Homo sapiens: one gene and its partners. The protein of the gene in region 1 purifies or fractionates together with the protein of each later gene. This does not show direct contact. Each region holds a gene or a part of one and is shown in the gene's direction. Other genes may lie near its edges. The genes, in order: FAM241A, SPTLC2, RTN3 and RTN4.

Region 1 (7,028 bases):
ATTTGAGCAAAAAATGAAGGTTCTTCTGTCATTCTGGCCTGAGTCTTTCCAGGTAGGGCGATTGACAAAGGATGCCTGGTTAAAATCAAGTCACTTAAGAAAGGAGGCCTTGGGAGAATGAATCAAGTCCTGTAGATGAAGAAACTGTGCCAGGTTTGAAATAGGATCAGGTGTCTAAAGAGAGATAAGCAAGGGAAAGAAGCAATTTCAGGGAATGTCCAAGAAACTGAAGGGACAGGACACAGCTATTCCATATATGTGTTGGTAATTGTGTGTATGAGAGATGATCCAAGTATGTTCATGAGGGTGAATGCCAGGTGGCTTTATGTAAGAGTTTCTGTGCCCTGATGCATAGCTGAAAGGCTAAACATCTCTAGTCCATTATTATATGCCTTAAATGTCAATAGCATCTGCTTAGATGTGGCACAATGTACAGGTCACTCACAATCTGAAATAACCTAACATGACCCTCTTACCTAGAGAATAGGGAAGTCCCATTATCCTTAGATTGACTTTCGAATTATTAACTCTAGCTTTAACGTCTTTATGATTATAAAAGTAATGTGTGCTTTGGAAAATTAGAACTATAGAAAGATCTAAAGAAGAAAAAAGCCTTTGAAATCCCACTCTATTTTGGGATTTTGATATCAAATATTTTGATATCAAATATGAAACTTGGTATTACTACAGTATATTCATTTGTCTATGTGTATATGCATATATACACACTTTTTTTTTGAGATAGGGTTTTGCTATGTTGCCCAGGCTAATCTCAAACTACTAGCCTCAAGCAATCCTCCCGTCTCAGCCTCCCGAAGTACTGGGATTACAGGTCTGAGCCTCTGTGCCCAGCCACACATGTATTTTTAATATGTTTTAATATAAATATAATTTTGTGTCTTCTTTTACAAAAGGTTGTGTCATTTTCCCATGTTATGGAAATTCTATGTGAAAACTCTCTTTAGGGCTGCCAAATAATTCATTCCCCTAACACCGCACATTGAAGTTGCTTCAAGCTTTCTTTTATAAATCGTGCTGTCTGAAAATATTTGCTTGTAAATCCTTAAACTTCTACCCTGGTATAGATTCCTAGAAGTAGAAGAACTAGGTCAATGAGTCAAACTCTTTGAAGCCTCTTGAAACATCCTAAAGAATTTAATTCAAGAAAGGTTGTACTCATTTACACTTGCAGCACTGGTGTGTAAAAAGGCCAGTTGGAAACCATCCATGCCAGCAATGAACAATATAGTTTATAATCATTGCCAATTTCATAGGTGAAACTTCTATCATATTGTAAGCTGTTGCTGGAGAGGTTTACTAAACCATTCATATATTTATTAGGCATTTGTATTTCTTTTTAGTCATTTTTTTTCTTTTGGCATTATAAGGATATTAATCCCTTATTTTCACATTGGCTGTAAATATTTTCTCTGCTTGCTATTTACTTTATAATTTTATTTATGTTTTTTAAAATTTGATAATGCTTTGAATTTTTATTAAAGGAATTTTTTTGGTAATTTCGTATATACACACACCACTCACATGTATACACGTATCTCTTTCTATACATATTAAGAAATTTTTTCTAATCTTACAATCAGTTAAATATTTGCCTATGTTTTCTTTTGTATGTGTGCATTTATGGTTTAATTTTTTACTCTATATATTTAATCTCTTTAGAATGATTTTCTATATTGTATGAAGTATGGAGCTGATCTTTTTTTGTCCTAATCATTGAATAATGTACTTTCTGCCTTGCTTTATAATCTTTTATAGTATTAAGGATTATATTAAAGTCTGTATTAAGTTTTTATATTTTTGTTGGTATTATGAAAAGGATTTTTTCCATATCATATTTTGTTGGTGGTTTCTAGCTATTGGCTTTTATGTATTTCATTTTTAACTGGCCATCTTTCTAAATTTTTATACTGGTACTAATAAATACTAGTAGCTCTTAGACTTGATTCATTTGCATCTTCTAGGTATATAATTATCCAGTTTATAGATAAAAATAATTTTGCTTCCTTTCAAATGATAATGTCTCATTTCTATTTCTTGCCTTTGGCAATGCCTAGAACTTTCAGAACAATGCTGGCTCATAGATAAATGTAAGTAAATAAATGAAGGAACTTCTGTAACAGCATTTGCCAAAGTGTGTTCCATGAGATGATCTGTAAAAAAGAAAACAAAATGGGGGGTTCAGTGAGGGGGGTCCATGCCTTTTGATCTATCAGTAGAAATATGATTAACAGTACAGATTCTAGATCAGGGTTACCTGGGTTTGCCTTTTATTGACTGTAACTTTAGGCAAGTAACTAACCTCTCTGGGCTGCAGTTTCTGCATCTGCATAATGGGAATAATTGTAACAACTTCATAGGATTATTGGAAGGATTATATGAATTAATAATATATGAGATGTACTTAGAGCAGTCTCTGGCACATAGCTATCTAGCATGTGAGTGTTAGCTGTTAGGCCTAATTTTGGACCAAAGTCCTAACTGAAACGAAATCTGAGAAAGGCAATTTTAAGTTTTCCAGCCTCTGCAATTAGAAAACCACCTGAGGCGAAAAGCAGAACAGCATTAATATAGTTTGGGCGTTTGTTGCCTCCAAATCTCATACTGAAATGTGATCTACAGTGTTGGAGGTGGGATCTGGTGGGAGGTGTTTTGATCATGGGGGTAGATCCCTCATAAACGGCTTAGTGCTATGCCTTTGGTGACAAGTAAATTGTCGCCCACTTAGTTCACACAAGATCTGGTTGTTTAAAAGAATCTGGGACCTCTCTCCCTCTCTCTCCTTCCCTCCCTCCCTCTTGCCATGTGACACTGCCTGCTCTCCCTTCACCTTCTGCCATGATTGTAAGCTTCCTAAGGCCCTTACCAGAAGGAGATGCCAGCACTATGTTTCGTGTACAGCCTGCAGAACCATGAGCCAAATAAACCTCTCTTCTTTATAAATTATCCAGTGCTATATTGTCTGTGTCTGATTTTTTTATAGCAATGGAAACTGACACAAGTATTCCTCAACTTCAGTGTGCATAGGAATCATCTCTTATTAAATGCAGATTTTGATTCAGTTGGTTTGGAGTGAGGTCTGAGATTTTGCATCTCTACAAACTCCTAAGTGATGCTGATGCTGTGCCCATGGACCACATTTTGGCAAGGGAATGGAGAATAAGCAAGTCAATATACTGTATTCACCACACTTGCCCTTCAACATAGTATCAGTAATATATACATATGAAGTTGTTTAACTATTTTCTTAGAAGTGTATATTTAAACTCTTGGTAAAATATGAGAAGCCAATAGTTGTTCCCTAGGCCACGTTATTTGCTGTAGGTCCTACAGCTAACTCATGCTAGAGCAGACTAGAACCCAGGTTTCCGAACACCAAAGCTAGTGTTTTTTGTTTGTTTGTTTGTTTCACAAATACAAAAAGCACATTACATGATGGAAAAACAGTCTGACAAATTTTCTGCCCTACTTTAGATGGTGTAGTTCAAAACTAAATATTAGTTTATACTCACTTCCTTTCACGTATTTTAAAAGCAGTTTGCAAGCAATATTGTAATAAGTGCTATGAGCTTAGTTGAATTCTGCCCTAACTTAATCTCATCTTGTTCCTAAGGACATCCAGTCACTAGAGTAACTCAGGGAATAATTTTGCATTTGATAGGCATCTTTTGTTCATTTTTTTAAATCATCCAGACTGGAACTTCTAAATCAGTGGTTCTCAACTGGGGGCCTTTTGTCCATAGGGGGCATTTGACAATGTCTGGACATTTTTTTATTGCTGAAACTAAGGAGGTGGTACTGACATCTAATAGGAAAAGGCCAGGAATGCTGGTAAACATCGTATAATGCCATAGTCCCCTACAGCGAAGTATTATCTGGCACAAAATTTCAATAGTGCCAAAGTTGAGAAACAATATTCAAAATATGTAAGGGTTACAGTCCTTTGAGTTGTCAAAAGTAATTACTCTGATAATAGATATTCCAATAGATAGGTTAAAATTGTTTATTTGCTTGAAACCTGTATTTTAAACAGAATTTCAAACTTTTCTCTGTGTCTCTTCTAGCAGCTCCTCGTATGCAACTTGCTGTATTTTGCTTTCTCACACATTCCTTTTCTGCCTTTCTTTCCTACCACCCATCTCCTTTCTGTCTCTGTTGAGTCTCGTTCTCTCATGTGTTTTTTCCCTCCCCACGCATCTCAACCACTTTCTCTTCTTCTGCATACATCTTCCCCTACCTCTTCCACTTCAGTGCAGAAGCTGAGCATTATGAAACAATGAAAAGGGGGTTGAAGTATGACAGATCTAATTTTGAATCCCGGTTTTACTCTTTATTAGCCCCCGTGATCCTGATTACTTAATCCGTCAGAGATTCAATTTCCTCATTTGTAATGGGTATGATGCTACCCACCTCTTAAAGTTTTTATGAGGATTCAGTCTCATTTTGTATGTAAAATGCCTAACACATGGAGGCACTCAATAAATATTTGCTCCTTATTTCTCCCTCACCTTTTCTATTTTTCTTCTTTTTCTCTGGTTTTCCTCCCCTTATTTCCCTCAACTAACACATCATAGAACTGTGTTTTTAGTACATGTAATTCTCAAATTTATAGAATATTTATTGAACAAAGTGTTAAGATTGTGAAACAATGTATCTAATGTTTAGAATAGACAATCTCTAAAGAAAAAATTAAACCTGTCAACCTAAATTATGTTGTTTTTTATGTAGATCTCTAGTTGGTTTCTTTTCCCCCTTGTTGCTCACTAATCCTTGAGAGGAAAAATACCCACCTCCTCTGTACAAACTATTCTCAGTTTCCTATTCAAAAGAAGTGATAAGGCAAGATTAAAAGGAAAAACTCAAAGTACCATGACATCAGTCTTGCTGTAACAGAAATATGTAGAAATTCTGTGTCTCTATTCATGTGTTCTTTAAGACTTAGCAACACTGTCTTCATTTTCTGTCTTTTCTGGAGTCATAATCTTATCTTCCAGTAACAGCCACCTATCTCCGAAAACCTTGTTCCTACTAGTTATGTTTTATTTCATTGTGTTTATGTGTGTTTGAGAGAATTAATAAGACATTTGAAATGTAGCTTCTTTTGAGCAGATAAACCGAGTTTCTAACCAACCTGATGCAGAAGATACTTTCTATCTTCTGATCTTTTTCCCCATACCCAGTGTTTCCCCCGGCACCGCCCCCAGCCATTTAACTTCATTGGCAGCTGAGTCTTATCTTGGCATAGGAAGAGGAAGTGATTGGCTTTATTTCTTGCTGTTTTCTTAGGGCAACAACTGCAGCTTATCAGAGTTCTAATCAAAAGGAAAGCATGGTACAAATGTTTTTAACTTTATGGAAAATAAAGGATAAAATTATCATTAATACTTAATATCTAAACATAATGTTAAGAAAGTTAAATTCCCATTGTGGTTTTTACAGTATTTATTTTCATGTAACTTTTTAAATATCTGTGTTTGAGAATTTCTTTTATTTCCTCTTCCAATTAATCCAAAATAATTTAATTTTTGTTTTGTATCCTCTTAATTAAATTTTACTTGAATGTCTGCAGATGGCCTACAGAGGTAGGGAATTTAAGTTTGATGTTGCATGATTGCAAATTCCATCAGTCTGACTGAATTGAGGATTTCTTATTCCATGAGTTTTAGAGGTAATAACAGCAGAAGCGAAATTTTCACTGCCACAAATTGAGAATTGAGAAGGAAAGTCATTTTTCAGGAGAGATATTTGATTTTGACTACTTTTTTCCCCTAAGTTTGATACTTTATTTTTTAAAATTTATTTCTTATTTTTTTATTTTTGAGACAGAGTCCTTTGTTGCCCAAGCAGGAGTGCAATGGTAGGATCTCAGCTCACTGCAACCTCCACTTCCCAGGTTCAAGCAATTCTTGTGCCTCAGGCTACCGAGTTCCTGGGACTACAGGTGCATACTACCATGCCTGGCTAATTTTTGTATTTTTAGTAGAGATGGAGTTTTGCCGTGTTGCCCAGGCTGGTTATGAACTTCTGGCCTCAAGCAATTTCCCTGCCTTGGCCTTCCGAAGTGCTGGGATTACAGGCATGAGCCACCGTGCCCAGCCTGGCTACTTTTAATGGATAAGTTTACCCATCTTGTAGTAGCATCTAGCATATTGTCCTGCATATGCAAGGTACTAAGTAATGTCACCAGAGATTTCATATTTTTTTTTAAAAAAGTAGATTCTTGAAAAAGTATAAAATGTAGAAATGTCTTAACCTGCAGTTTGAAATCAGAAAGAGGCTTGAGCAGGGTGTGGTGGGTCATGCCTGTAATCCCAGCACTTTGGGAGGCTGAGGTGGGCGGGTCACCTGAGGCCAGGAGTTCGAGACCAGCCTGGCCAACATGGCGAAACCCCGCCTCTCCAAAAAGATACAAAAATCAGCCGGGTATGGTGGGGAATACCTGTAATCCCAGCTACTCAGGAGGCTGAGGTAGAAGAATCGCTTGAACCCAGGAGGCAGAGGTTGCAGTGAGCCAAGATCGCAAACTGCACTCCAGCCTGGGCGACAGAGCAAAACTCCGTCTGCGCCCACCACCCTCCCCCGCCACAAAAAAAGAGGCTTGAGTTAGGCATATTCTTGAGTTCGTGGCCCACAGTTATATATCATTAGTTCATGAAAAGCCCTTCTCTTATTTAATTATTTTTCCATTGCATAACCATTTCTTTCTCTACAATAGGCAGCTGTTCCAATACGTCTGTTAGATATTACTGAAATTGAGTGTATCTTTTTGACTACCTGGTGGTTTCATTTGTGTGTCTGCAATTATGACTTATAATTTTAAAAATATTGAAGCCCGGTAGTTAAAATGAAAAATGAATGCAAATTTTGGTATTTTTCTGTTTATAATCATTTCAAAGACTAAGTTCTAGTTGATATTCTCATTGTTTTTATCCATCCCCTCAAAAAAATCTTTTTTCTTTTATTGGGTCTATGTAGTTTAGTGGGAGGTAAGTATAAAACAATGCTATAAT
Region 2 (7,028 bases), on another chromosome or scaffold:
GAGAGAAGTCAGAAACGTCTAGGATCACTTTACACTCTCAAGAGTATGTTTCTGTGCTTGAAGAGATGAATGAATGTGTATAGTAAAAGAACAACTCTTGGATTTGGGTTTAGAATTTGATGAGCTAGATGCTGTGTTAAGGAGTTATGAAACAATCACACATTGCTGTTTAGTGATGACAGTAGACACACAGTTTTCACAATAGTAACAGTTGAACAATAGAGCAGTAATTTTTCCTCTCTGCTATTCAGATGAGTGGGAGGAGCACAAACCTTTATTTGAGGTAAGGTGTGGCAATTTGCCCGAGGGAAACTTTTACATTAGCATTGGAAAGAACCTTTGGGAGTTTATTTAATTCAGTCCTTTATCTCTTTGTAGGAGTTTATTAAAATCAGTCTTGATAGAAAATTCTGTACTGTTTTTAAAGATCTCCAGGGGATTTGCAGCAAGTTTTTCTCTATAGCAAATTGGATTATTATTCCATGATCTTAATTACCAAATTTCTTCCTGTGGATTTAACATTTGATGAAATAAATGCCATGTTTTGGTTGCACCTGAAATATAGTAGTTTGTTTGTGTGTTTGTTTTTAAAACTTCACGTTAACAGCTCTTTTTAAAAGAGCTTCCATTTCTTTATAGAAGTTTTGAGATTTAGGTTTTCCTTTTACTTTCCTGAGTTAGTTAATAAGTGTGAAAGAAAAAAAGTTATCTACCTTTGAGACAGTTTTGACCCTAACTTTTTTCCCTTTGGGTGTAGTTTTAATGAGATATTAGAAGGATGAGAGCTCTCTGGCTTACAGAATAAAAAATTCTATCTCAAGGAATTGGGGCAAAAGTTGTGTTCTTATGTTAAATAATAAGCAAAGTAGAAAGAACAAAGTGTTAGTCTTGCTTCTTAGGAGGAGGCAAATAAATAACTAATAAAGCTGGTTTACTAAATAGCTACTAGCTTTTGTTTCCACTGAGGGAGAAACAGTAACTGGGGGTTTATATGTGATAGTTAAGGAAAAGGAGACGATAGTTATGAGGCTAGAACAGTAGAAATAGTTAGAATAGTCATATATCTATTTAGATTTAGCAGATCCTGATAAGATACCTCAGATACCTGAAGGCTTTTCAGAAATAATGTAATTTACAACTTGGAGGACAAGATTTTCATTTCAGTTTTCACTCTAAGGGGAAGCATATCTTGATTCTTACATAGCTGCATCTGAAGAATTCCAGAGTTATTTGAGATACTCAGGAATTTTCTTTAACAGGAATTCTTGGGAAATGTGTAAGCAGCTATGTTCTTAAGATAGTATTTTAGAACTAGGATGTTCAGAAAAGTCAGACTTGCCCACTTTTTAGGGTTTGCCCATGTGCCATAGAAATTTGCACCGCTTTGAGCAAGACAGTTAATTGGTTGATTTAATTAGATTCAGTTTTTGGAAGAAAGAAGCAGTGTTTATTGGTAGAATAGGCAATTCAGAGGGATGGGTAGAGGCACTGTTTGCATTCTGAGTGGGTGTGCCATACTTGATTAAATAAATGGTTTGTGGACTCAAAGTCAGTTCCCTTCTGGGTAGTTTCTGAGAAGCTTCTGTAATATAATTCACAATTTGTGACCGATAAAAAAGTAAGTCCTTTGCTCTTGACCCATTTACTGTTAGAAAATTTATCTTAAGTTTGTCTTTAAGACTACTTTTTATTGCAAAGCTTGAGGCAGCTATTCTTCCTTTTTTAAAAAAATAATTTTTACTTCTCATTATAGAAATAATACATGTTTAATGTGGGATCATAAAACATTGAGATAATCTCTGCGTTAGGTTTTTTTTTTTTTGAGACGGAGTCTCACTCTGTCGCCCAGGCTGGAGTGCAGTGGCGCCATCTCAGTTCACTGCAGCCTCCACCTCCCGGGTTCAAGCGATTCTCCAGCCTCAGCCTCCTGAGTAGCTGGGATTACAGGCATGCGCCACCACGCCTGGCTGATTTTTGCATTTGTAGTAGAGACAAGGTTTCACAGTGTTGGCCAGGCTGGTCTCGAACTCCTGACCTCAGGTGATCCACCTGCCTCCGCCTCCCAAAGTGCTGGGATTACAGGCGTGAGCCACCACGCCTAGCCGGAGGTTTGTTTTTTAATGTGGTCTATTGTAAATCCATCTGCTACTTTCCGTTAATTTCTTTTCTTTCTTTTTTTTTTTTTTTTTGGCGAGATAGGGTCTCGCTCCAGCCTGGCCTGCAGTAGCACAGTCATAGCTTACTGCGGCCTCAACTTCTCGGGCTCAAGCGATCCTCCCATCTCAGCCTCCCAAGTAGCTGGGTCCACAGGTGTGCACCACTACAGTGGGCTAATTTTTTTTTTTGAGACAGAGTCTTGCTCTGTCACCCAGGCTGGAGTGCAGTGGCGCGATCTTGGCTCACTGCAAGCTCTACTTCCCAGGTTCACACCATTCTCCTGCCTCAGCCTCCCGAGTAGCTGGGACTACAGGTGCTCACCAACACACCCGGCTAATTTTTTTTTTTTTTTTGTATTTTTAGTAGAGACAGGGTTTCCCCATGTTAGCCAGGATGGTCTCGCTCTCCTGACCTTGTAATCCGCCTGCCTCAGTCTCCCAAAGTGCTGGAATTACAGGCTTGAGCCACCATGCCTGGCCTTTTTTTTTTTTTTTTTTTGTAGAGATGGGTCTTACTATGTTCCCCAGGCTAGTCTCTTTTTTACTTAAACAAACAAACAAAAATAAATAAAAATATATATATATAAAGAGAGAGGGAGACAGAGAGAGAGGGAGACAGAGTCTCACTATGTTGCCCAGGCTGATCTCAAACTGTTGGGTACAATCGATCCTCCTGCCTTGGCCTCCTGAAGTGCTGAGATTATAGGTGTGAGCCACCGCACCCAGCCACCCAGGCTGGTCTCAGACTCCTGACCACAAGCATCCTCCTGCTTCAGCCTACCAAAGTGCTGGGATTACAGCCACTGTAGCAGACTATTTTGTGATAATTTCTAAGTACAGTGAAATATGCGGTTGTACTGATACTATGGGTGTGATCCAGTCTTACTCCAAAAAATAGGTATTAAGGGCTGGGCACAGTGGCTCATACCTGTAATCCCAGCACTAAGGGAAGCCAAGGTGTAAGGATTGCTTGAGCCCAGGAGTTCAAGATCAGCCTGGGCAACGTGGCGAGACCCCATCTCTATTTAATTAAAAAATAATAAGGTATATGACCAGGTACCGTGGCTCACGCCTGTAATCCCAGCACTTTGGGAAGCCGAGATGGGCGGATCACTTGAGGTCAGGAGTTTGAGACCAGCCTGGCCAACATGGTGAAACCCCGTCTCTACTAAAAATGTAAAAATTAGCCGGGTGTGGTGGTGTGTGCCTATAATCCCAGCTACTCTGGGAGTCTGAGGTAGTAGAATCGCTTGAACCCAGGAGGTGGAAGTTGCAGTGAGCCAAGATGGTGCCACTGCACTTCAGCTTGGGCGACAGTGAGACTCTGTCTCAACAAAACAAAACAAAACAAAACCTCAGTTAGATACCATTTCACACCACTAGGATTGCTAAAATAATAAACCAGGTATTAAGTGTTCATGAGGATATAGAGAAATTAGAATCCTGATACATTGCTGGTGGGATTATAAAATGATGCAGCCACTTTAGGAAACAGTTAAACATAGAGTTAGCATGTGGCCCAGTAATTCTACTCCCAAGAAAAATGAAACATATGTTCCTGCAGAAACTTGTATATTAATTATAATAGCAGCATTGTTGATTGATTGATTGATTGATTCAGGGTGTTACTGTTACCCAGGCTGGCAGGACATGGCTCACCGCAGCCTCCACCTCCTGGGCTCAATCAATCCTCCCACCTCAGCCTCCCAAGTATCTGGGACTGCAGGCATATGCCACCATGAGTGGCAAAATTTTTTTTTTTTTGAGACAGAGTCTCACTCCGTTGCCCAGGCTGGGGTGCAGTGTGGCTCACTGCAACCTCCACCCCACTGGTTCAAGCAGTTCTCCTGCCTCCGCCTTCCGAGTAGCTGGGACTACAGGCACATGCCACCACGCCCAGCTAATTTTTTATATTTTTAGTAGAGATGGGGTTTCACCATGTTGGTCAGGCTGGTCTCAGACTCCTGACCTAAGTGATCCATCCGCTTCGGACTTCCAAAGTGCTGGAATTACAGGCGTGAACCACTGTGTCTAGCCCCACGTTATTTATAATAGCCAAAAAGTAGAAACAATCCAAATGTCTATCAACTGATGAGTAGATAAAATATGGTATATCCATATAAAAGGATATTATTCAGCAATACTACTGAAGGAATGCAGTACTAATACATGCAGGAGAATACTACATTGTTTATGGCCATGTGTTTATATAGTGAAAGTATTTAAAAATACAGGGGAATGATAAACACCAAATTCCCAATTCTTCTGAGGAGGAAAGGAAATATAGCATTTCCCCAGGACAGACTTCTTAAAAGGATTGGAGAACTACTTAAACATGTCAGATCTTGACACTGTCCTGATGGCCTCCTGTCACTAATAACAGAATACAAAATGGGGTTTACAAGGCCCACCATGAACTTTCCCATCCCTCTCTGACTTCATATCCTGCCAGGTCACTGCTTTCTAGCCAATCCGGGCTTTCTGATGTTCCCCAAACACATTGCCATCAAGCACCCCTCCCTGGGGCCTTATTATTATTATTATTATTATTATTATTATTATTATTATTATTTTGAGATGGAGCCTCAATCTGTCACCCAGGCTGGAGTGCAGTGATGTGATCTCGGCTCACTGCAACCTCCGCCTCCAAGTTCAAATGATTCTCCTGTCTCAGCCTCCCAAAGTGCTGGAATTACAGGCGTGACCTACCACGCCTGGGGTCCCTGGGGCTTTAGCCTTTACAGTTACCTCAGCCTGGAAAGCTTTTTCACAGAGTTCTCTTCCCTACTCCAAGTCCATCTGCTTACACCTTACCTCCACCCTGTTTAAAATGCTCTTTTTCCACGATTTTATTCTGATTGTAGCAGTGTGATCTGATACAGTATATCTATTTGCTTATCTGTTGTCTGCCTCTCTCACAGGAGTGTATTTCTAGTGCTCAGATCATGCCTAGCTCATAGCAGGGACTCAATAAGTATTGAATGAATAACTTTAATGTTTTATTTAATGGAAAAAAGATCTAAAGCATATAAGCTAAATCTTAAGTTTTGATAAAGCTAGATGTTGAATACAGTTTTATTTCTATTTTTTTGATGATAATTACTGTGTCATATTTCATACATACTCTGCTGGTTGACAAAAACTAGCTCCCTAAAATAATGTTACAGACATAAGTAAGAAATGGATTGTGGTGACACATAAGCTGTTAAAGAAACCCGTAGCCTAATTTATAGTGTATCAGGTTTGCAAGTGGTTTAAAACAATAGCGGTTTACTGAATGTTCTTACTAGCGTGAGGGGAGAGCTTGTGAGAAGTAGGAAGAGGCCAGAGAAGGTCCTGGGGTCTGGCACACTCTGATATGCTTCATCACCTCTCCCTAAGCTCTCCCTACAGGGCAGTGGGGCCAGTGGTGACTTTTGCGGCACCCTCTCCATTGTCTTACCAAGGGCTTCAGCTGTGAGACGCCGGTTGGTGCTACAAGGAAGGGGAAACGTGTCAGCTCTTTCCTCTGCTCTTTTCTCACATTGATTTCAAATGCCAAGAAGCTGGGCTGAGAAACCGGGCTTGTGATCCTGGTTGTACTGCAGTCCACCATGTGCTGGAGAGCTCTGCAGGTTGTGCTAAAGGGTAGTGTCTTTATTGCCTCCTGTATAAGCTTGACTTTTACATAGGCAAGCAGGTTATTTCCAGGACAACTAAATTAGTTGGTGCGAAACCTCATTTCCTAGAAACCCATTTTCTTAGTAGAGGAAACCCATATAACCATTTGTCTCCATGTAAGTGTAGCTAATAACATGAATAACAAAAATAGCTAATTATTTAAATAGCAAAAATAAGTATGGAAGATGAATTTGCAGTAAAATTCTAATATTAAGCCACTGATTATTTTAAAACAATCAGATTAAGTTGTAGTACCTCTGAAATAATTAAAGGAAAATTTGATTCTTAGAAAATCTCAATTCATTGGAAAGCCATGGAATTAATAAAATAAAAAAAGAAAATCTCAGGCAATATAAACTAAGGAATGGCAAATGGAAAATGTATTGATTGGTGGAAAAGTAATTGCGGTTTTTGACATTGAAAGTAATTACTTTTGCCATTACTTTTAATGGCGGAAACCATTTAATGGCAATTACTTTTGCACCAACCTATAAATAATTGGACTCTAGTTCCAACTTTGATATTTAGCTTTCCCATGACTGTTGACAAATTGCTTAATCTACTTTCCTTGATTTTGTCAGTCAAATGAGGAGGAAGAGACAGCTTGAGAAACATTTGTAAGAGAAATGCTTATTACTTTGTATGTGTTTTTCGTCTTACATATTAAATATAAATTCCTTTAGGTGATATTCTTTAAAATGATTTCCTTACTTCCTTTTATATTTACATCCATTTTCTCTTAAAAAAACAAACAAACAAAATACTGCACAATTCTTGAAGACAAGGATTACCTCTTACCTCTTATTTGTTTCATGAAATATAGAGTACAATTTTTTTTTTTTTTGAGATGGGTCTTGTTCTATCACCCAGGCTGGAGTGCAGTGGCGCCATCATGGCTCACTGCAGCTTCAACCTTCTGGGCTCAGGAGATCCTCCTATCTCAGCCTCCCCAGTAGCTGGGACTACATTCATGCACCACCACATCCGGCTAACTTTTGAAAATGTTGTGTAGAGATAGGGTTTCACTATGTTGTCCAGGCTGGTTTTAAACTCCTGGGTCCAAGCAATCCTCCCGCCTTGGCCTCCCAAAGTGTTGGGATTACAGGCGTGAGCTCCTGTGCCCAGCCTAGAGTACAGTTCTTGACATATAGATAGAAATTAAGTATTTGTAGAATGAGTGGAAAAAAAAATGAAATGATTATGTTGATTTTG
Region 3 (7,028 bases), on another chromosome or scaffold:
GGGTTTTGCCATGTTGGCCAGGCTGGTCTCAAACTCCTGGCCTCATGTGATCTGCCCTCCTCGGCCTCCCAAAGTGCTGGGATTACAGATGGGAGCCACTGTGACCAGCTTTACCCATTATTTCTTAGTAAAATTTTATTACAGAATTTGTATTTCTTAGATGTGCTGTAGACACGTATCACTATTAGCACTTAAAACAGTGATATATAGTAGTACTTGGTAAGTATTTGTTGAATAAATTATCAAATTTACGAGCTAGAAAGGCACACTTGAGAAATAAACTAAAGAGAAACTCTTTTTGGAGTCTCGCTCTGTAGCCCAGGCTGGAGTGCAGTGGTGTGATCTTGGCTCACTGCAACCTCTGTCTCCTGGGCTCAAACCATTCTCCCACCTTAGCCTCCTGAGTAGGTGGGATTACAGACATGCACCACCACGCCCAGATAATTTTTGTACTTTTACTAGATATGGGGTTTTGCCATGTTGGCCAGGCTGGTCTTGAACTCCTGACCTCAAGTGATCCGCCCACCTCGGCCTCCCAAGGTGTTGGGATTACAGGCATGAGCCACTGAGCCCAGCCAAGAGACTCTTATCTTAAATGCTTATCCATTGCAAATGTGCATTCATATTGTCTAAAAAGCACTAATACAGTTTTGGTGGGCCCAATGCAAGATCCTCATTTGTTGGGTCACTACTTGAACATAAAAGTTTACCTTAAGATACTGCAGTGTGGGGCCAGGCACGCTTGCTCACTCCTGTAATCCCAACACTTTGGGAGGCTGAGGTGGTTGGATCACCTGAGGTCAGGAGTTAGAGACCAGCCTGAACAACATGGTGGAACCCTGTCTCTACTAAAAAATACAAAAATTAGCCGGGCACAGTGACGGGCACCTGTAGTCTCAGCTACTCGGGAGGCTGAGACAGGAAAATCACTTGAACCCAGGAGGCGGGAGTTGCAGTGAGCTGAGATCACACCATGGCACTCCAGCCTAGGCGACACAGCAAGACTCCATCTCAAAAAAAAAAAAAAGTTACTGCAATGTGTTGTAATCATTTTTATTGCAGAAGCCTTTCCTCCTTGCTGGATGTTTTTCTTCATGTCACAAAGGAAGTGTCTCAGGCTTTTGCACCATGAAAATAAGATGAAGTTTGTTATTCCAAAATTTAACTTATTTAAAATGTAGATGCTAAAAAATTACCTTAATTGTTTAAAAAAAAAATCTGTACGTATTGCTGTCATCCTCCAGCTTCATGTTCTTTCACCAAGCTCCTCTTGGTTTTGGAGACTTGTCTTGATTTTAGTTAAAGAAAAATAAGTGATTGGTTGGTGTCCTACAGAAAACAATTTTGTCTTGACTGACCTGTCCAGTAATTAATTTTAGAAGTATTAGTTACTATATACAGGTCAAGAATGAGTGATGGCACTCTGTACTTTAGTGCCTTAGGTTCTAATGCAGCCAGCAATGTAGTATGCTTAGAGATGGGGATCAGGGGTCAGGATGGCTTCCCAGATTTCTGCCTTTGAAGGAAACTGAAGATATCAGAGGCAAAAATTTGAGGTTGAGGTAAAAGAGACTGAAATATTCAGTGTTCATTTCAGAGCAAGAGTTGCCTTTATTAGGCCTCAAGTATAGAGACACGTCTATCATCTGAACTTTAAAAGTACTTTAATAGTTTACTGATGACACGATGTTGAAATTCTGTAACTTGGCCGGGCACGGTGGCTCACGCCTGTAATCCTAGCACTTTGGGAGGCCGAGGCAGGCGGATCACGAGGTCAGGAGATCGAGATCATCCTGGCTAACATGGTGAAACCCTGTCTCTACTAAAAATACAAAAAATTAGCCGGGCGTGGTGGCGGGGCGCCTGTAGTCCCAGCTACTCGGGAGGCTGAGGCAGGAGAATGGCGTGAACCCAGGAGGCGGAGCTTGCAGTGAGCCTAGATTGCACCACTGCACTCCGGCCTGGGGGACAGAGCGAGACTCCGTCTCAAAAAAAAAAAAAAAAAAAAGAACAAATTCTATACTTGCTAGAGACTGCTTTTTATTGTTGTTATGAAAGTTGGCTGAGTCTGGTGGCTCACACCTGTAATCCCAGCACTTTGGGAGGCTGAGGTGGGTGGCTTGCTTGAGCTCACGAGTTTGAGACCAGCCTGGACAATAGTGGTGAAACCCCATCTCTACAAAAAGACAAAAAAGCAAGAATTAGCTGAGCATGGTGATGTGCGCCTGTGGTCCCAGCCACTTAGGAGACTGAGGTAGGAGGATGGCTTGAGCTGGGGGCAGAGGTTGCAGTGAGCTGAGATTGTGCCATTGCACTCCAGCCTGGGTGACTGAGCCAGAACTTGTCTTAAAAAAAAGAAAAGAAAAGGAAAAAAGAAAATCATGATGCCAAAATAAAACTACATTTTATATGTTTGTTCATGGAAATTAGCTCAAAGCAAAAACAGCTTGGGCAATTTTTTGAAAAAGGTTTTGCTTTAAATATTTCTTTCCTCACTCATGAAACTTAGTTGTTCTGTGTACTTTTTATGGCTTCATTTTCACACTTTGTTCTACCATATTAATCAAATGTGAATATGTAATTTGTGTTTTGAGTTAACCCTTAAATAAAAAGGAATGTGGCCCCCGTCCAACACTGACATCATCTGAGTGTTACATTCGTGTCAGATTATCAGTGGCAGTGTAATGTGTTAAAACACAGACTTGAGCTCCAGGAATGCCTAGATTTCAATCCTGGCCCTGTCTCTTAATAATTATGTGATCTTGTGCAAGTCCTGAGCCTCAGTTTCCTTAACTTGAAAATTGGGATAATAGTATCTATCTTGGAGTTGGTATGAAAATTAAACACAATTTGGCTGGGCACGGTGGCCCACGCCTGTAATCACAGCACTTTGGGAGGCCAAGGCGGGTGGATCATCTGAGGTCAAGAGTTCGAGACCAGCCTGGCCAACATGGTGAAACCCTGCCTCTATTAAAGATACAAAAAATTAGCTGGGTGTAATCCTGTAATCCCAGCTACTCAGGAGGCTGAGGCAGGAGAATCACTTGAACCCAGGAGGTGGAGGTTGCAGTGAGCCAAGATAGCGCCATTGCACTCCAGCCTGAGCAACAGGGTGAGACTCCATCTAAAAAAAAAAAAAAAGTGAACACATTTATAGGGCTTAACACAGTGTCTTGCCTGTAGTAAATAACTGTACCATTAATGTGAAGAAATGAAATATAGATCAACAATGTGACCTAGACACATTTGCTTTGTACCCTTAAATCCTGACCTTTATTAAATAACAATACCTAATGTTTGACATCCATTTGTAGGTTACAAACTACTTGCACATATTAATAGATACCACATAGCAGTTCAAGTACAAATGAGAAATCTGTCTTCCTCACAATCAAAGACTATTGTTATGCCTTTTTTCCCTTTCCACATGTGAGTCAGTTGTTTCAGTTTGTGGCCCTTCACATTAATGTCATAAAGCTGCCACCCGCTTCCACTGAGGTGGTCTGTTAAAGAGGTAGAGGGAGGAGTCAAGATGTTTCCCAGAAGGCTTGGCATGAATCAATATGCTTAAATACTTATGCAGATTCTGACTAATAAATGTTGTTATGATACATTAGGAAACCCCTTTCAGCACAGAGGCAAGCATACAGGAGACAGCAAGAATGGTCATGTCAATATGGCCTGCAAATGCCTGCTGACTTGGATTGTTTTTATTCTCCAAGAATAAGAAGTGTGTTTTGCTTTTTTTTTTTTTTTTTTGAGACGGAGTCTCGCTCTGTCGCCCAGGCGGGAGTGCAGTGGTGCGATCTCAGCTCACTGCAACCTCCATCTCCCAGGTTCATGCCATTCTCCTGCCTCAGCTTCCCAGTAGCTGGGACTACAGGTGCCCACCACCACGCCTGGCTAATTTTTTGTGTTTTTAGTAGAGACAGGGTTTCACCATGTTAGCCAGGATGGTCTTGATCTCCTGACCTCATGATCCGCCAGCCTTGGCTTCCCAAAGTGCTGGGATTACAGGCGTGAGCCACCACGCCCGGCCAAGAAGTTTTTTTTTAATGCTGTTTTTGTTTATTGTCAAATTCACAAGTAATGGAACCACTCTGATCAAATTAAACAACCAATCTACATACATTTAGTAGGTGCACCCTTACCCTAAATTGTCATTTCTAAGGGGTTGTTCATTAAGTGGCTGGTAAGAACCTCAGTGTTTTTATTCTTGGTGTTTTAAAGATGGGCTGAAAATAAAAACCAATATTACTGCTTTTATCAAATTATCCTGTGAGGAAATAATATATTTATCCTGATATAGGAGTTACCTGTCTAGTCCTGTGCATGTTTCAAGCCTTGTAAAATGAAGTTTGGTCATGAAGGAATTGGTGACGTCTGGTTGAAGGGAAAAGGGAAAGTTGAGCTTTCCAATTTTGTTTGAGTCAAGAGTATATTTTGCAGAAAGACACTTCTCTTTACCCATAATCCTAGAATTTACCATTTTTGTAATTCTGAACAGAATTACAAAGGCTTCATTAAGTAAGTAGGTTTTCTAATATAAATGTGCATATTTGTTGTGTGCACTTAGCTTATAGTTTGTGTTAACTTTATTGTTGATGATGAATTTAGCCTCCTAAAGTATACAAACTTGTGAAAAATTCATCAATTTTGTAGTATAACTTTTTCTCTTAATTTAGCTAATACTCTTTGTATTGTTCTAATTTTGGTATATGTGCTGCTGAAGTAAGCACTCATAGTAAAACTTTTTAGACAAAAATTAGCAGGTCGATATTTTGTTCTTATAATTGACTTATTCAGAAGTTGCCCAGAAAACTGACTTAACCTTCTATTCTGTTCATTTATGACAGCTACTAGTTGTAGAGTTATTTTGGATCATAGGGTATGGTGTTGATGTTTTGAAAGAAGTGTGTGTGTTAAATAAGTTTAGCTGTAATCAGTATTGCTTGTGATTGCATCATTGAAGTCTTCTGGGCATCTGTGAGTTTTGTAAGACATGTTACTCTGTGATATTGCAACCTCAGAGAGAATCTCTTTAAATACTGTAACGGGGTTTGCATTTCCATTTTACGTATGGGAGAAGATTATCAGCAAGTGGCCTGCTCTTGTGATTTTTTTTTTTTATTTCAAATAACTATTCTTACCTGTTTTCTCCAATCAACTGATTTATTATCTCCTATAACCATATCATTGTAACCTAACCAGAGAAGACAGTGAGCTTATCAGCAAGTGGCCCACTCTTGTGATTTTTGATTTTTTTTTTTTTATTTCAAAGAACTATTTTTTTGAGACAGAATCCCCCTCTGTTGCTCAGGCTGGAGTGCAGTGGTGGGATCTCTGCTCACTGCAACCTCCGCCCCCCGGGTTCAAGCGATTCTCCTGCCTCAGCCCCCTGAGTAGGTGGGATTGCAGGCTTGTGCCACCATGCCCAGCTAATTTTTGTATTTTTAGTAGAGATGGGGTTTCACCATGTTGGTCAGGCTGGTCCCGAACTCCTGACCTCAAGTGAACTGCCCCCGCCTCGGCCTCCCACAGTGCTGGGATTACAGATGTGAGCCACCACACCCAGTCTCAAAGAACTATTCTTACCTGTTTTCTCCAATCAACTGATTTATTATCTCCTGTAACCATATCATCATAACTTAACCAGAGGGAACGGTGAGCTTTTTGACCTGTTCCTCATTGGTAGCTCGCCCTTCAAGATATATGGAAGGACATTCTGGAAAACCTTTTGTTATGAAAATTGTGTCCTGTTATTTGAACATATTTCAGTGGAGGGCATTGTCTTTATTTTACGTATGAGATAGAAGTACTTGATTTTCACGATATCTTACATTTGTGTACTGCTTTATGATTTAAGTTGTGCCCATATGTTACCTTAATTCAACAACTGAGCATACATGAAGGCTCTTTGCCAGGTGCTGTGGAAGACAGAAAGGTAAATAAAATATAGATCATTCCTCTAGAGGCCATATTCTATAGAGGAAAGACTTGTATTATGTTTATCTGTGAGGTAGACAGGTAGCGATATAACCCCCTTCTTACAGATGGGGACTCAGGCACAGAGAGTTTAATGCCCACGCTTTAAGATTTGAAGCAACATGTAGTAAAAGTGGCTCAGTTACCCTTTTGAATTCAGTGATCAGTTTAATTTAAAAGTCTTAATTTCTGGCTCCACGGTTCTTAAGCCAGGTGCCTTTTTATTTCACTGCTCTACAGAAACTTTCTAGTCAAGTTCACCAGATATTTTCCACATTGTTAAATTCAGTGGTCACTTCATCCTCCTCTTAACATGCTTTCACAACAGCTTTTGACATAATTGATTATTCTCTCCTTGAAATGCTTTTTTAATTTGTCTTCTGTGACACCACATACTCACTCTCACTGGCTTTTCATCCTCTGTCTCCATAAAATTCACCATTTTAAGGTGGGTTTTAGTGTATGCACAAGGTTGTACAGCTATCTCCACTATCTAATTCCAGAACATTTTTATTACCCCAAAGAGAAACCCCATATCTGTTAGCAGTAATTCACCGTTCTTCCCTCCCCTCAATTCTCTGACAACTATTAATCTGCTTTCTGACTCTGTGGATTTCCTTATTCTTGAGATTTAATATTGCTAATTCTTTTTTTTTTTTTTTTTTTTTTTTGAGATGGAGTCTCACTCTGTCACCCAGGGTGGAGTGCAGTGGCACGATCTCTGCTCACTGCACCATCCGCCTCCTGGATTCAAGCGATTCTCCTGCTTCAGCCTCCCAAGTAGCTGGGATTATAGGCATGTGCCACCATGCCCAGCTAATTTTTGTATTTTTAGTAGAGGCAGGGTTTCACCATGTTGGTCAGGCTGGTCTTGAACTCCTGACCTCAGGAGATCCACCCTCCTTGGCCTCCTAAAATGCTGGGATTACAGGTGTGAGCTACTGCGTCCGACCTAATTATTTTTATTTTGATAGAGACGAGGTCTCACTATGTTGCCTAGGCTGGTATTGAACTCCTGGGCTCAAGCGATCCTCCTGCCTTAG
Region 4 (7,028 bases), on another chromosome or scaffold:
GGCCTGACTCCAGATTTAGTACAGGAAGCATGTGAAAGTGAATTGAATGAAGTTACTGGTACAAAGATTGCTTATGAAACAAAAATGGACTTGGTTCAAACATCAGAAGTTATGCAAGAGTCACTCTATCCTGCAGCACAGCTTTGCCCATCATTTGAAGAGTCAGAAGCTACTCCTTCACCAGTTTTGCCTGACATTGTTATGGAAGCACCATTGAATTCTGCAGTTCCTAGTGCTGGTGCTTCCGTGATACAGCCCAGCTCATCACCATTAGAAGCTTCTTCAGTTAATTATGAAAGCATAAAACATGAGCCTGAAAACCCCCCACCATATGAAGAGGCCATGAGTGTATCACTAAAAAAAGTATCAGGAATAAAGGAAGAAATTAAAGAGCCTGAAAATATTAATGCAGCTCTTCAAGAAACAGAAGCTCCTTATATATCTATTGCATGTGATTTAATTAAAGAAACAAAGCTTTCTGCTGAACCAGCTCCGGATTTCTCTGATTATTCAGAAATGGCAAAAGTTGAACAGCCAGTGCCTGATCATTCTGAGCTAGTTGAAGATTCCTCACCTGATTCTGAACCAGTTGACTTATTTAGTGATGATTCAATACCTGACGTTCCACAAAAACAAGATGAAACTGTGATGCTTGTGAAAGAAAGTCTCACTGAGACTTCATTTGAGTCAATGATAGAATATGAAAATAAGGAAAAACTCAGTGCTTTGCCACCTGAGGGAGGAAAGCCATATTTGGAATCTTTTAAGCTCAGTTTAGATAACACAAAAGATACCCTGTTACCTGATGAAGTTTCAACATTGAGCAAAAAGGAGAAAATTCCTTTGCAGATGGAGGAGCTCAGTACTGCAGTTTATTCAAATGATGACTTATTTATTTCTAAGGAAGCACAGATAAGAGAAACTGAAACGTTTTCAGATTCATCTCCAATTGAAATTATAGATGAGTTCCCTACATTGATCAGTTCTAAAACTGATTCATTTTCTAAATTAGCCAGGGAATATACTGACCTAGAAGTATCCCACAAAAGTGAAATTGCTAATGCCCCGGATGGAGCTGGGTCATTGCCTTGCACAGAATTGCCCCATGACCTTTCTTTGAAGAACATACAACCCAAAGTTGAAGAGAAAATCAGTTTCTCAGATGACTTTTCTAAAAATGGGTCTGCTACATCAAAGGTGCTCTTATTGCCTCCAGATGTTTCTGCTTTGGCCACTCAAGCAGAGATAGAGAGCATAGTTAAACCCAAAGTTCTTGTGAAAGAAGCTGAGAAAAAACTTCCTTCCGATACAGAAAAAGAGGACAGATCACCATCTGCTATATTTTCAGCAGAGCTGAGTAAAACTTCAGGTAATCCAATCTATATGCAGTTTTGTGCTTTCATGCCACTTTTGGATTTAGGGAACATTCCACTACATTTTGTGTTTTATATTATGTTTATAGTGTCTCATATGTCACATTGGTAAGAAGTCTTCTCCACTTTTTCAGTTAAAGGTTTTAGTGCTTTTTCTAACTCTCTTGCACTCAGCATTCACCCTTAACTTTTCCACACAGTTACACTTTTATATTGCACTATGGAACTATTAATAGAAAATATTTTTGTTTATAAGAATTGGCTTTAGTACCTATTTCTTTCTTTCTTTCTTTTTTCACTTGTGTTTCTTGATAACATGAAGAGCAAGAGATATTAAAATATTTTCAGATGTGTTTTTGTTATCCCAGAAATTACCATATTTAATTTTTAAAGAAAATTTCTATAGTATGTTTTAAATATTTCTATATAATATAGTACTTTTCCAGTGGTAGGTATAAAGTTAGGCATATTGAGTGTAGACATTTTGTTGAAAAGTATAAAATGAGTTATGCTATTATGAATTCTTTTGAAAAGTACCGATTCTCCTTTTTTTCTTTTGACTATCCATTTTCCACATACCTGATTTGCATAAGGTGATTTGCACAAGGTGATTTGCACATGTGCTCTTTATTAGCATTCTGATTTAGCTGCGTTTTCTCTAAAATAGTGATTATGATAAATTTACTGAATATACTTATGTATTTAAGTGCTGGTGCTTCAGCAGTACAGTCCAGCTCATCACCATTGGAACAGTGGTAGACCAGTTGCTGTAATCTAAGAAAGAGGAGATTATGAACATTCAGGCAGTGGGATGAGCACAGAGACATAGGACTTGGTGTTTGACGGATAGGGACATAAAGGATGAGGGGAAGAGGTAAAGATGACCCCAGGAACCCTGGATTTCATTTCTGGCATGTGCACTTGTATGGGTGGCAGTATGAGAAACTGAGATAGGGAACATGAGAGATTAAAGTAGGTTTAAGAGGGAAGATACAAATTTGGTTTTGGATATGTTGGTATTGATGTACATACCTCTAAGATATCCAGTAAGTTATGGATATTATACACATGAAGCTCTTGAGAGAGATCTTGGCTGTATGTGTCTGTCATGGGCTTAGAGATAGAAATTAAAGCCCCAGATACCAATTAGGAAGAATCAAGAGAAGAGGACTACTTGAAGGTGGAAGAAATGGTCAAAATTATCAAATACTGGAGAGGTCAGTTAAGGATTGCAAGTTGGTCAAAAAGGAGGGAAGATATTGTCATGACAGCGGCAAATGGTGTGGTGTGCATGGGCATGGCTAGGATTGAGAAGTGAATGAGACTTGAGTAAGTGGTTATTAAATGTTGATTACTCTTAAGAAGTTTGAGATTTTTATTGGAGAAAAATTAAAATATTAGCAAGCAGGAAGGAGAGTATGCAGTGGAGGTAGGACTTTTTTTTTAAGGTGGGAAGGGGAAAATCTGATTACAGGTGCTGGCAGAAAGTCAGAAGGGGATGGGGATGTGCTGCCTAGTTCAGGTGGAAGAATTAGTGTTAGAGAGAAGGAACGATAGAGCTTTGATTGTAGTGAGTGGAAAGGAAAGTATGGGGTATTGATACTGTTAGGGTTTTGTGACTGAAAGTTGAGGGAATTATTTGATGGTTTATGTTTGTTCTTTAAAGCAGTATGTTAGTTCATTTGCTGGGAATGAAGTAGATCATGCTTGGGTGGAAGAGATCTGCAATACCTCTGACTAGGGAAACCAAAGGCATTGTATTAGGAGCCTAATCAAGGTTGAAAGGTGGTCTAAATGGTAGGGTGACTTTTCTTTGATTGTGCCAAACAACCTAGGTATGGGTTCAGGGAAGGCAAATGATTGTATTGATTCAAGGATGTGTTTTGGCAGGTGGGCCCTGTGGAAGGACAGTAAGTCAAGAAAGTTGAGGGTGATAGCAGGAGAGTAATTTGAAGTGATGGACTGTGGCATCTAAGTTGAAGGATGTGAATAGAAAAAGGTAGGAGAGGTAGGAGGAGAGTAGATGGTCAGTGAACTCAAGGCCCAGATTAGGTTTAAGAACCAATAGTAGTAGGAATAAATACATGCCAGAATGATAGGAGATTGTGGTCAAAGTAGGGGAGAGAAAGAATGCATGTGCGGGAGAGCAGGGTGTGTGTGTGTGTGTGTGTGTGTGTGTGTGTGTTGGATGTTGAATTTAGAATTTCAGAGGAATAGCAGTTCAGGTTGATTATAATGGCCAGTGTTAGGCCATCAGGCAAAGGCCTACTGTGTAGTCAGATTAAGATTGCTAGAGGTGAGGTCAAGTAAACTATGAGGCCATGATACTGTATTGCACTTCTACCTAACATTGAAGTCACCCAGGGTGATGGCAGGACTAGGGGTGGAGAGGAATACTGGGGTTAGAGTCCTTGGTAAAGGGCAGTGAGGTAACTGGCAGGATGGTAGGTAGAAGAAATGAGGAAGGACAGAGAATGACGTAGCGGAATAGCCAAGACTTTTGCCCAAGGTCTCTGAAATAAAAGTCTGGAAGCAGCATTGGTGAGCAGAGGGTACTGACCTCCCCACTCCTCCCTTAGGTGTGTAGAATATGAGAGAACGATTTAGCCTTCATTTAGCAAGTTCCACAGGGAAACCAGTATCTTCAAGGAACAGCCAGGTTTTAGTGAAGGCGAGGTAAAGGCAGGAATGTTCAGTAAAGATGTTGAGGAGTAGAGGAGCTGGTTCACAGTGGAATGGGGGTTTCAAACAGCACAGTAAAATGGTTTAGGAGGGAACAGTAGAAAGAAGGGTCTCAGAAGCCCAGAGCAGCTTGGTGATGACTGGGTGAAGAGCAAGGAGTAATCGGTGTAGCAACACCTTTGAAGTCTCCCCTCCCCGCTAGTGCTTCCTCCCAAAACTTAAAGCTAGCAGTCCTCTAGTAGATGGTGGCCCTTAGGAATTTCAGTATTTCAGGAGTCACCTATTTCTTGGATTGTTTTTGTTAAACCTGGGAAATCTATAGCCTAATAGTTTAGAAGTAAGGGAAGAAAAGGGGGCATTGCCTTTGAAAGCTTAATGGGAATGGTGGAAGAAAGTGTAAGCAATGCTTGGGCATTCTCTTTTAGAATATGTTTATCTCCCTTCTCTGAGAAAATTGTTATTTCCTGCCTTTTTGACTTAACCTTTTTTGATATTAGTTATCATAGCAACTTACTAGGGAATAGAGAATTATTTAGATACACCCAATATATATATTCTACAAAAGTTGTGGGAAGGAAACCCAGTATTGCTATAATGAAAACAATATAGGTGACCTGAGGTTTTAGTCTTGGCTATACCACTGACAATCACTTTGTTTCTCTAGATGTCATTTTCCTTTTCTATAAAAGGAAGGGTGGATTAGCTCAAGTCCTTGCAACTTAATAATTTTCTTGACTTGATTATATAACAGGCATCTGTTAAAAGCAGGTAAGTAGTGGCCAGTCACAATGGCTTACGCCTGTAATCCCAGCTTTCAGGGAGGGAGAGGTGGGAGGATAGCTTGAGCCCAGGAGTTCGAGACCTGCCTGGGCAATATAGTGAGACTCCGTTCTCCACAAAAAAGGGAGAAAAAAAAGACAAAAAAAAAAAAAAGTGTAAAAGCAGGTAAGAGTTGCTTTAACATGCTTCTATCAGGCACTATATGAGATTTTTTTTTGGCGGGGGGGGCAGGGAAAAAGATGAAACTAAGACAAAGTTTTGCGCTTTATGCAACTTACAGCCAGCTGGTACAGACACACTGTTGAGGACATAGTTAAACATTGTGATCTATGTTATAGTGAGGATAGGTACTTACCTGTGTATCTTCGTGAAAGGGAGGTTCAAGTGTACTGAAGTCAAATGTACCAAAATACAGCAGTGGTCTGATAAAACATAAGGGAAGCTCTCTTCTCAGATGACTTAAAAGTTTTATGCCATCTCTAATTATGAAATATTTAAGTGTGTTTTTAAAAAAATTCTGGGTCTTATTAATGTATATGCATTTAAACATTTAAACTATTAAATAATAAAATACTAATTTCCTCAGATCATTTATTATCTCATATGTTCTTCTTTTCTTTTTTCGAGACAGGTTCTTGCTGTGTCGCCCAGGCTGAAGTGCAGTGGTGAGATTATGGCTCACTGCAGCCTCAACCTCCCAGGGTCAGGTGGTCCTCAGCCTCCCAAGTAGCTGGGACCAAAGGCTCGTGTCACTATGCCTGGCTAATTATTTTTGTAGAGAGGAGGTCTTGCCTTGTTGCCTAGGCTGGTCTCAAACTCCTGTGTTCAAGGATCCTCCCGCCTCTGCCTCCCAAAGTGCTGGGATTACAGGTGTGAGCCTCCAGGACTTTCCTGTTCTTGTTTTCTTAAAATGACATTTTGTAGGCAGAAATCAGTTTTAGTTTTGGGAAGAAAGATTGATTTTGCAAGAGAGATGAATAAGGTATTGTGATGCAGATGGTGCTTTATTAATTTTGGGAAGTAAAGTTTGTCAAGAAACTAATGAATTCTGGTCTTCCTCCCCCTCCATTTACAAAGAAATTTGTGACAAACTATATTCTTACTATTGGAATGTAAATACTGATTTTTTTTCTCAGTAGTAGTATCAATGAATGTTCTTGGCATTTCCCCAATGAATGTTCTTGGCATTTTTTTTTTTCCAAAAATTGATTGGCTATAGATATGTTAATTAATTTCTGGGTTATCTGTTCTGTTCCATTGGTCTGTGTTTCTGTTTTTATGCCAGTACCATGCTGTTTTGGTTACTATAGCTGTGTAGTATATTTTGAAATTTAGTAGTGTGATTCCGCCAGCTTTATTTTTGTTCAGGATTGCTTTTGCTTTTTGGAGTCTTGTGGTTCCATACAGATTTTAGGATTTTTTTTCCTATTCCTGTGAAGAAGGTCATTGGTATTTTATTAGGGATTGCATTGAATCTGTAGACTGCTTTGGATATTACGGCCATTTTTTAACAATGTTAACTCTTATGATTCATGAACATGGAATGTCTTTCTTTGCATTTGTTTGTATCCTCTTCAATTTCTTTCATCATTGTTTTGTAGATTTCCTCGTAGAAGTCTTTCACCTCCTTGGTTAAACTTATTCTGAGGTATTTTTTTTTAAGCTATTGCAAATGGAGTTTCCTACTTGATTTCTTTTTCAGCTAGTTTGTTGTTTGTGTAAAGACATGCGATATTTTTGTTATTGATTTTATATCCTGCAACTTTACAGAATTTACAAGTTTTTGGTAGTCTTTAGGTTTTTCTTTATATAAGATCATGTCATCTGCAAACAGGGACAATGTGACTTCCTCTTTTCTAATTTGGATATCCTTTATTTCTCTCTTGCTCAATTGCTCTGGGTAGGACTTCCCATTTCAGTCTTTATTTATTTGTTATGACATTAGCAGTTTTAAAGAACACAGGGCCTCTCTTCCCCCGACTTTATAATAGAACATTCCTCCTAGTGGATTTGTCCGATGTTTCCTAGTGATTAATTTGAGGCTATGGGTTCATTTATGATACTGTATAGATGATGATGTGTCCCTCTCATAGCACCACTTCTAGAGTTATCTGCTATTCATCAGTCCCTCACTGGTTATGTTAATTTTGACCGTCTGGGCAAGATGAGCTCTGATTTCCTTATATTGTCTTT

The links.
Region 2: the proteins of FAM241A (region 1) and SPTLC2 purify together in Homo sapiens (co-immunoprecipitation; 2 studies listed by BioGRID and IntAct, with this or other methods). This does not show direct contact.
Region 3: the proteins of FAM241A (region 1) and RTN3 purify together in Homo sapiens (co-immunoprecipitation; 2 studies listed by BioGRID and IntAct, with this or other methods). This does not show direct contact.
Region 4: the proteins of FAM241A (region 1) and RTN4 purify together in Homo sapiens (affinity purification with mass spectrometry; 4 studies listed by BioGRID and IntAct, with this or other methods). This does not show direct contact.

The regions. Positions count from the first base shown.
Region 1 is NC_000004.12:112,148,452-112,155,479, forward strand, and holds part of FAM241A (uncharacterized protein FAM241A), read left to right. Parts: intron 1-7,028.
Region 2 is NC_000014.9:77,606,620-77,613,647, reverse strand, and holds part of SPTLC2 (serine palmitoyltransferase 2), read left to right. Parts: intron 1-7,028. UniProt on the Homo sapiens protein: Component of the serine palmitoyltransferase multisubunit enzyme (SPT) that catalyzes the initial and rate-limiting step in sphingolipid biosynthesis by condensing L-serine and activated acyl-CoA (most commonly palmitoyl-CoA) to form long-chain bases.
Region 3 is NC_000011.10:63,684,483-63,691,510, forward strand, and holds part of RTN3 (reticulon-3), read left to right. Parts: intron 1-7,028. UniProt on the Homo sapiens protein: May be involved in membrane trafficking in the early secretory pathway. Inhibits BACE1 activity and amyloid precursor protein processing. May induce caspase-8 cascade and apoptosis.
Region 4 is NC_000002.12:55,019,427-55,026,454, reverse strand, and holds part of RTN4 (reticulon-4), read left to right. Parts: coding exon 1-1,369; intron 1,370-7,028. UniProt on the Homo sapiens protein: Required to induce the formation and stabilization of endoplasmic reticulum (ER) tubules. They regulate membrane morphogenesis in the ER by promoting tubular ER production.